2 separate regions of the Homo sapiens genome follow, and region 2 is linked to region 1. A link means that fine-mapping ties the variant in region 1 to the expression of a gene that starts in the linked region. Tissue or cell type: whole blood. Region 1 holds a variant in brackets; the other region holds the start of a gene. All regions are shown on one strand. Distances are between the middles of the regions.

The links. PIP is the estimated chance that this variant, and not a neighbour inherited with it, causes the effect.
Region 2: it holds the start of TFDP2, and the variant in region 1 is fine-mapped to the expression of TFDP2 in whole blood (TOPMed, PIP 0.98).

Annotation. Positions count from the first base shown.
Region 1 is chr3:141,843,730-141,848,995 of GRCh38, forward strand. No RefSeq gene overlaps it. Among named protein-coding and RNA genes, the nearest start is that of ATP1B3, 30 kb to the right of the region's middle. RefSeq lists a cis regulatory region at 4,979-5,123. The variant G/A (reference allele first, on the strand shown) is at 2,376.
Region 2 is chr3:142,146,787-142,151,786 of GRCh38, forward strand. It overlaps TFDP2 (transcription factor Dp-2), which reads right to left and starts at 2,758. Exons shown (of 13, transcript NM_001178139.2): 1 at 2,397-2,758. RefSeq lists silencers at 2,254-2,303, 2,534-2,603, 2,664-2,873, 2,984-3,033 and an enhancer at 2,403-2,903.

The sequences.
Region 1 (5,266 bases):
GCAGAGCAGGTATTCTTACCTTAATTCCGTGTATATGGAACCCAACACTGAGACAAATTAAGTGACTTAATCATTCACCCACCGTTCACCAATGATGCTATGAATTTTCACACCTCTGAGGCTGGGCCTGTACTCACTCTTCTGCCTACCATGCCTCTCCTCTTCTTCAGAGGTCAGCTCAAATGTCACATTCTCTGTGAAATGCCTTCCCACTTCAGCCCGTGAACTACTCTTGCTGCATAGACCTCCCACAGTCTAGTCTCCTATTATAACATAGCTAGTCAGGGGTGCCCTGGACTCTAAGAGAGAAACACCCAGGTTTGAATGTCTAGTCCTCCCTTTGCTAACAGATGACCTTAGACAAGTTCCAACTCCATGCAGGCACTGTGCTTTCTTGAGTAAAATGAGGATATTTCTAACATTTATTGAGCATCAAAATATGTCAGGCACTTTACAAATTAGCTCATTTATTCCTCCTCAGAGCCCTAGAAAGAGGTGTTATGCTCAGTTTTATAGATTTCTCAGGCATGGACAAGTTTTGACCTCAGGCTATCTGACTCTAACAGATGGGAACTTCTTTCTAGATTATCCTCTGCCTTTTAAACTGGAATGATTATTTTGTGATCCTGGCCGCCCTGAGTTTAAATGCCCTGAGAGGCTTAAATGAGGTAAGTATGTTCAGCTTTGTGGCTCAGTAGTTGGGTAGATCTCCTTCTTTCTCTGCCCCATCACACAGTCTTATTGATTGTCAGCCACTAGAGTGGCCTATGAAAGCACAGACTCATAGGAGTCCTTGATATGCATCACAGATGTGCACCACAGAGATGCAATATTCAAGTCAACTCATGACTTACCTGGGAAAATGCTGGCCCTTTATCTTTTTAAACACATACAGACACAAGAGTACACAACTACACGCATACTGAAAAATGCACAAAACATAAGGATTCAGCTTAAATAATTGTTGTAAAGTAGAAATACATCTGTGTAACTACCTCTCGGGTCAAGAAATAGCTCATCACCAGCACCCAGAAGCCACCTCACACTCCTTCCCAATCACAGCCTCTATCCTCTCTTCTATCAAGCGTAACCACTACCTTGAATTTTATGGAAATCACAGCTTTACTTTTCTTTATAGTTTACCACCTAATAGGCATCCCTAAACACTTAGCATTATTGAACTTTTATATCGGTGGAGTCATACAACATGTGCTCTTCTGTGTCAGGCTTTTTCACCCAACATTGGGTTTGTGAGAGCCACCCATATTCTGTGTGATGGTAGCTTGGTTTTTTCATTGCTGTATAGTATTCCACTGGACAAATACACCACAATTTATTTATCTGTTCTATTATTGCTAGGTATAGAGATTGTTCTAATCTGGGTTGCTATGAATAGCAGTGTTTTGAAGACCTCTAGTCTACTGAATCTAGTGGTCTTTCTCACTATTCTAGAGGTGCTTTCTAACACTCTACTGTCCAGAAGCAATGCTTCCCCTACACACACACACTACCCCACCCCCACCGCCTTGTCTGCTGTCCAGCTTGGAAATGTTAAAACATTACCGTACAAGCTGGGAACCACAAGCTATTGAAGAAATTGGAGGTCAAAGATTTTCCGAAGACCTCCCTTCCTTTCTGCCTCAGATTTGACTTCTGATAACAATAGCGATAACAAAAACAGCAAAAAGAATACTTAAAAGTGTAATGAGAATTCTTATCCATTTACTCCAGGTCTGGTGCGTGGGAAATGGGGGAGAAGGTGCTGAGCTTACTGATATTGCCGGTAAGGCTGGGCCCAGGCTCTTAAAAGCCTCAAGCAGGGAAAGGGGTCCCACGTCTGCACAGGGGAGGTGACTAGAGAAGTGGCTGGCAGCACCCCCTGCTGTCTGCGCTTCTGCTTCTATGCAGGACCTGATCTATAGCCAGTTTTCAGATAATTTGGAGAGAAGGATGGTGAGGCCTGCAGCAAAGTGGCTTATTCTAACCACAGGCCCCCAAGCTGGCTGGGCTGGCCAGGCCATCAGCTTGCTTCATTGACCTGGCTCAGAGAAAGTGGGGCTGGGTGAGCTGAAGGTAGGGCCTCCTTTCCTGCTTATGCCAAAAGGTGCCTAAGTGAACTTTGCCCCAGTGGAGAGACTGTATCTGACCTAATGGGCTTCTCACTAAACATGCGGGTGTGAGTAGAGTAAGACTTCCCTGCAGGGTCCAAGCCAGCTTATGAGGCTCCCTCCTCAACCCAGGGCTTCCCAGCTCATCTGACACAGAAACCATCCCAGAAACCAGCTGCTACAGTTTATCTTGAACTTCCATTGTTACAATGTGCTGGACTTAAATTTTTTCAAAAATAGGCCGTTGTCAGGAACACAACTGGTACC[G/A]TGTTTCAGGAGGGCACTTTGGTAATAAGAATCAGAAGCCTGGAAAATGTCCTTTCCCTTTAACCCAGCAATGCCACTTCTAAGAAGCCATCCTAAGGAAATAATCAGACAATAGACACAAGAATATGCACCACAGTATTGTTTATAATATGGAAAACCTGGAAACAACCCAGACGGCCACAATAAGGAACCAGTTAAATAAATCTCTGTACTTCCTTATAGGAATGTTATTAAAGAATGTTTAATAGGCTGGAATGTTTACTCTACAATTTAAAAAAATTACAAAATGATATTTAATGATATGATTCCAAAGGAGCAAAGAGCCTGAAAGAATACATATCTTCATAGAAATATCTCTACAGATTAATATGTAGTTATAAGATTGGTATATACAATAAGTAATTTTTTTTTTTTTGAGGCAGAGTCTTGCTCTTTCACCAGGCTGGAGTGCAGTGGCACGATCTCAACTCATTGCAAACTCCGCCTCCCAGGTTCAAGCAATTCTAATGCCTCAGCCTCCCGAGTACCTGGGACTATAGGCGCATGCCACCACGCCCGGCTAATTTTTGTGTTTTTAGTAGAGACAGGGTTTCACCATGTTGGCAGGCTGGTCTCGAACTCCTGACCTCAAGTGATCCGCCCACCTCAGCCTCCCAAAGTGCTGGGATTACAGGTGTGAGCCACCGCACTCAGCCTATATATAATATTTTGAAAATTTTATTTATTTTATTATATTTTATTTTATTTTTTGAGATGGAGTCTCAGTCTGTCACCCAGGCTGGAGTGCAGTGATGTGATCTCGGCTCACTGCAACTTCTGCCTCCCAGGTTCAAACGATTCTCCTGCCCTCAGCCTCCTGTGTAGCTGGGACTAAGGCACCCGCCACCATGCCCGGCTAATTTTTGTGGGGTTTTTTGAGACAGAGTTTCGCTCTTGTTGCCCAGGCTGGAGTGCAATGGCGTGATCTCGGCTCACTGCAACCTCTGCCTCCCAGGTTCAAGCAATTCTCCTGCCTCAGCCTCCCGAGTAGCTGGGATTACAGGCATATGCCACCATGCCTGGCTAATTTTGTATTTTTAGTAGAGATGGGGTTTCTCCATGTTGGTCAGGCTGGTCTTGCACTCCCAACCTCAGGTGATCCTCCCGCCTCGGCCTCCCAAAGTGCTGGGATTACAGGCGTGAGCCACCGTGCCCAGCTGTTTTCCTGACTCTTACAGCTGAAGAAAGAGGCTCAAAATGGTTAAATCTGAAACTCTATCACTATTTTCTGGAATGCAAAATGGATCATCAGCATAAAGGGTCGTGTCCTTGACTGACGCCCTAGATCACTTTGTACAGTCAGTTCTCGGTCCCACAGGAGATTAGATTTGGAAGAAATTGTCAAGATGATGGTTTTCAACTCCCTCACAGTCCAAGAGTTCCCTTTGCTCCATGCCCAGATGTGGCCCTGCAGCTGCTTCTTGCACATGCCCAGCGACAGGGTCCCTGCTTCAGTTCATGGAGCTGAAATCTGCCCATGTACAACTTGAATTCCCTCGCCCCAGTTTCTCTTCTGTGTCCAAGTCCTATGGGTGGATCCTGGCAAACCCAGCAGGGTATGTGCCATCACGATGAAGGAAAAAGGAGTTAGGCCAGAGGTTGGATCAAGGATCAGGGTTTAAAAAAAAAAAAAAAAGTATCAGGGTTGAAAACCAGCTTCCAGATCTCAAACAGAAAATGAATCAGGTGGGCCAGGCATGGTGGCTCATGCCTGTAATCCCAGCACTTTGGGAAGCCAAGGCGGATCACGAGGTCAGGAGCTCAAAACCAGCCTGGCCAACATGGTGAAAACTCGTCTGTACCAAAAATACAAAAATTAGCCGAGCATGGTGGTGTGCGCCTGTAGTCCCAGCTACTAGGGAGACTGAGGCAGGAGAATCACTTGAATCCAGGAGGCAGAGGTTGCAGTGAGCCAAGATCGTGCCACTGCACTCCAGACTGGGCGACACAGTGAGACTCCATCTAAAAAAAAAAAAAAGAGCCAAGTGTGGTTGCTCACGCCTGTAATCCCAGCACTTTGGGTGGCTGATGCAGGTGGATCATGCAGTCAGGAGTTCAAGACCAGCCTGGCTAATATGGTGAAACCCTGTCTCTAATAAAAATACAAAAATTAGCTGGGCGTGGTGGCGCACACCTGTAGTCCCAGCTGCTCGGGAGGCTGAGGCAGGAGAATCACTTGAACCTGGGAGGTGGAGGTTGCAGTGACCTGAGATTGTGCCACTGCACTCCAGCCTGGACAACAGAGTGAGACTCTGTCTCAAAAAAAAAAGAAAATGAGTCAGGTGAACTAGAGATTGAAGAAATTACACACACACGCACACACACACACAGCAGTCTACAACTGGCCTGTGCGTTAGGGCAAGGATACTGGTGTTGGACTCCATCCAACATGTAGCCCTGAGTAATATAGTCTAGGTACTTGCTTGAATGGGACATGGGGAAGCCTTCAGGGGTACTGGAAATGCTCTGTATCTTGATCTGGGTGGCAGTAACAGAGGGATTTACATATGCAAAAGTTCACCAAACAACATATTTTAGACTGGTGTTCTGCACTGAATTTACAGTAAATACATATTTTAAAAGTCTAAAACAAAATAAAAATGATTCAAGAAAAAGAGGCACAGTTGCTGGAATGTGTGAGGGGTGAGAGGGGACGGGCTGCAGCGCAGAGGTTGGTTGGGTGGCTGCAGGAGCACATGGAGTGTCTTTTTTTTTTTTTTTTTTTTTTTTTTGAGACAGAGTCTTTCTGTGTCACCCAGGCTGGAGTGCAGTGGTGCAATCTTGGCTCACTGCAACCTCTGCCTCCCGGGTTCAAGCGATTCTCCTGCCTCAGCCTCCCGAGTAGCTGGGAT
Region 2 (5,000 bases), 300 kb after region 1:
AAAGTCACTAGCAGAGGTTAAAGACTGAGAATATTTTCTAACACTCAGTGGAATATAAGTATCTTCAAATAGTTGAAAACCCACAATACAGAAGAGACAGTGAGGACACAATTTCTAGTTCAGTGAAAGAAATAATTTTATAAAAATTAGAGTTGTCCAAACATGGCGAGGTGTGTGCCTATAACCCCAGCTACTTGGGAGGGTGAGGTGGGAGGATCACTTGAGCCCAGGAGTTCCAGACAAGCCTGAGCAACATAGAGAAACCCTGTCTCAAAAAAAAAAAAAAAAAGAATTGATCAAATATCTTTGCCTCAGAAACTATGACACTATAAATAGTCTCTCCAAAAAATATACAAATATGCATAATTTTGCATAATATTTCCAAGAGTTCACAAGCCTACTTTCATATCTATTCATGCCGCACACCTAGAGTCATGTATCCCAGATTAAAACGGAAAGGATTTAAGTATGAAGAGGTGAGTGTATTTGATTCTCTTTAAAATCCACTACAATTTAAAATTCTATGATCTAAAAGAACTCTCAATCTATGCCTTCTAGTTTCTTCTGAGATCCATTATAACACATATTGCAATAAGAGTTTAAAAGATGATGACAAGGAAGTACATCCCACTTCATCAGTTATATTGAGGGCACACGGCTCAGACAGTTAAGAATTTTAGCTGCCAGAGAAAAACTTCCATGTGCCACTTGGACTACACATTCACAAGAGTCAGGGTGGGAGGAATTACATGATCACAAAATGAGAATATGAAGTATTACACACTGCAAAAATTCAGCTTTCCTTTTTAAACACCTAGAAATGAAGAGAACTGAAAAGTAAGAGTTTAGTAAGTCTTGAACCTTTTATTAACAAATGTAAGGGCCACAGTGCTCAAACTGCAACTGCACAGCCAGAACAACGCTACAGACACCATGTCTACTCTTAGACTAGACTAGTTACAGGCACAAGATGTTCTAATAAATAACAAACACATCCAGAGCCAGTACACAAGTGTGACAGAATCTGGGGTCTAGGCATTTGATTTTTCTCCTGGTGCTGTCTGAGAATGGACACTGCCATTAAAGATTAATTACAGTAATCTGATAGTGATAAAGTTTAGCTAAATAACAGGCTAAACAATGAAATGGAAAAGGAAGCTGCAATATAGATCAATTAAACTATTTTTATATCTACTTTTAAAGAGAGACAGGGACATGATTATGCCATATAGAAAATAGATGAATATATATTCACGAGCTGAAAAAAAAAACAGGTAAATTATTTATTAGGTGAAGATAAATTCAAGCCATGAAGAGAAAACACATGGCCCAGAAAAAAAAAAAAGTAGGTTGTGCAAGTCAAATGAAAAGACACAAAACTCAGATCTCGGGGAGACAGGGGAAGGAGAAGGCTGAGCTAAAAGAGAGCCTTACTGAAAGAAAGCAAATAAGTGAGAGGGAGTCTGTGCCCTCTGAGATGGAATGAGGAAAAGATAAAAGTATTCATGGGCTCAAAGGCAGCTTCAGCAGTGAATATGGAAAAGGAATGAGCCCGTTCACTGTCTCAACACTAAAAGGGAAATAATATAGGGTCTTTTTCTAAACCAGCATCCATGGCAGTCAATAATAAAAGTGCCTAACTAATGCAAGGCATTTAATACGTGGAGGATTTTCTTACGATTGCATTCCATACATTAGTCCATTCACTCCCCGAAACACACCGAATAGGTGGATGCATCTAATTTACAGATGAAGAAACCGAGATCACACAATGGGAGATAGCACAGGCTGGTAAGAGAGACTGGGGCGCTCATCCACTTCGTTGTACTGTCTCTCAGCGAGATCCTAGGAAAACCCTTACACTTCTTTGTGAAGACAGACCTTGGCTTTCCAGATTTTCTCAAAGGAGTCTGGGCCCAAAAAGCGATCCTCTACTTCAGAGAAAAGTTCCTTTATGGGGCATATGAGGTTCTTCCAAGCACACAAAGCTTAGAAACTCTTTAAAAACAAACAAAACACCTGGTGGACACAGAGGCCTGTGAGTCATGAAAGGAGAAGGGAAAAATCGGAAAACCAGATTTAGAAGCCATCCTTCTTTGAAGAGAACGAGAAAGTAGAAAGCAGCCCTTCCCCTCTTCCACGAGGCGTGACTCAGGGACGTTACCTCCCCCGATTTGCTCTATGCACTAAGAGGGTGACCCTCCTCTGCTTTCGACTCTGGCCCAGACACTCACGGGTTACCCGGCCAGGCCTGGAGAACCCAGGTCTAAACAGATGGGACTCGTGGGGGAACAAGGGGGCCCCTGTGCGCAGGGAGGGAAACCTACCCAGGAACGCGCCCGGCCGGGTCCAAAGGCCCTCCGCGCGCGGGCCCGCGCCCTCGCCCCAGACCTTACCGCCTTCGGCTGCAGAAGAACTGGCGGCCAAGCGAGGCTGTCGGGCCGAGCCAGGAGCGCGTCTTCGGGCGCCGCCGCTTCTGTGGCGCCCGCGCTTAGGCGGCGGCCGGGTCCCGGTGGACTCACACCCGGGGAGACGCGGCCTGCCCGGTCAAGGCCCAGGAGTTTGAGGCCCCAGAACGCCAACCGTGCGCGCGCCCTCGAGCCTGCCCAAAGATGAAGGGTCAGGGCGCGCCCCGCGGGCCGGGCAGCTGCGGCAGCGCCGCAGCCGAGATCGCTACCGATTTCGTCCGCCCTCTCCCTGCCCAGCTACAGCCCCGCTTCCCCCGCGCGAGCTTTGGCGGCGGAGCAGCACAGTGCGCGCCGATTGGCCCTCAGAATGTGCGACGCCTGGCGCCGCTCCCCACGGATTGGCCGGGCCGGCAGTGCGTGCACGGAGTAAACAAACCCCGCCCCCAGGCTTCCCTTTGAGAGTAGGGGGCCAACAGATGGAGGGGCGGGACTCGTGCACTCAGCCACCGCCCCTTGGTTCCCCCTGTGGCCTCCCTGGGAGCCCTCCGCAGGACCCGACCACCCCGCTTCCCCGCCGCCTCCAGGGACAGCTGCGGGCCTGAGGCCTAGAATTTTAGACACACTTCCTTCATCACTCCTATCTCATCCCCCCTACTCCCACCCTGCGACTTGGGTGGGAATCTCTTTTCCAACTGACCCCGAAGCCAGAAAACCCCAGCTCTCTTGGAAGGAGGGGGACTGGGGCAGTTCCATTCGGTCCCCAGGCCTTTGCGGGGTCGCCCTGGGGGAGCATCAATAAGGGACAGGGGGGCGAGTGATCGTGATTGAGGCTATGCGTGGGGCCAACTGTGGGACACCTTGAAATTATTCAGACAATGAGTTAGAGACCACTGGGAATGTGGAGGTTCTTCAATATCAAGGCAAGTTAATACCCAAACCAGGACAGGTCATTCTGTCCCGCGGAAACTGCACACACCCCAAATACCCGTACACTTGGTTCCATATGAAAAGATTTTGTTCATTCGTTCGTGCCGAAGTTAAAAACCCCGTGTGAACAGCGCATTAAAACGATTAGATCTTTCTCATTTTACTCCAGTCAAATCTTATAGATCTTCTATATGCCACTTTGTTTGTTTTTGAGACGGGGTCTTGCTCTCACCGAGGCTGGAGTGCGGTGGCAGGATCACGGCTCATTGGAGCCCTGACTTCCCAGTCTCAGGTGATCCTACCACCACAGCCTCCCGAGTAGCTGGGACTACAGGCCCGCGCCACCACACCCGGCTGTTTCGCCATGTTTCCCAGGCTGGTTTGGAACTCCTGGACTCAAGAGATCCTCCCGCCTGGGCCTCCCAAAGTGGTGGGATTACAGGCGTGAGCCACCACGCCCGGCCCCAAACACTATTCTTGATATGGGGAGACATCAGTGGACAAAATAGAGACAAAAACTCCTGCCTTCATGGAGCTTACATTCTAGCAGGATGGGAAAGATAATATGCAAAAGAATACGTAAAACAAAAACTATATTACATGCTGGTATGTGTGCTATGGGAAAAAAATATAAGCAGAGGTGTTGGAGGAATGGCTTCAGTCCTAAATAGAGTGATCTGGGAAGGTAGCACGGAGAAGGTGGTATTTAAGCAAATGCCTAAAGGAGATGAGATAGGTAAGAGAGCACTTTCAGATCTTTCTCTGGGGCAGGGTGGAGAGACAATTGTATGCATAATTGCATGTAACTAGTCCTGAGAGTCCAAGAATGTCAAATGCAGTACTCCACTGACTGATTCTAAAATGCAAAAACCCCAGTGATTACTTCACATTCTCCAGTAACAAATCAATAAAAATTTAGTTTCCACAAAAAATATAACTTTAAGAAAACTTAAAGTTATATTCAACAAATACTTTTCACTCTAGGTACTACGTATACAAAAATGAGCAAGACAGACAAAACATCCACCCTCAAGGAACTCAGTGTAGCAGAGGAAATGGATTGTAAACCACCTCAATTCAATGCGTAAATAACCATGATGGAAGTACACACACAAAGTGCTTGGGCTAATGTAGGGAAAGGGGTCGCTGTCATAGAGGAGCTGTAACTATCTTAGGATCTCTTTATCTATAAAAGATAGTACTAAAAGATTCAGTACTAAATTTGGAGTGAAGTTATGGCTATGAGGGATTCCCTAACCTCTTTATAGGTCAGAGTCTGAAGATACTAGGTTGAACCACATGAAATTGCTGATATTGGGCAATTTTCATATGGTTCAACTTACTCTCTTGCAGAGGTAGTATGAGGATTTTGCTATGTAATGCATGTAGTAAGTGTTCAATAAATGATGGCAATTATTATATTCATCGTATAATATAGCTTTTGAAAATAAAGATTTAAAAGTCAATGTTTTATAACACCTTCCAACGCCATTACATAAAATGGGCAGTGAAAGTTTCAAATTTTCCATATCCTAGTTTGATTTAGTTGTGAATTTCCATGACCTAATCAGGGCATGTTGTAAAAGACAGTAAATGTTAGTTTCACAGCAGGCCAAGAAATTCAGAATAAGGAGGAACAGCTTGGTTTTTAAGCCAAAAACTGAG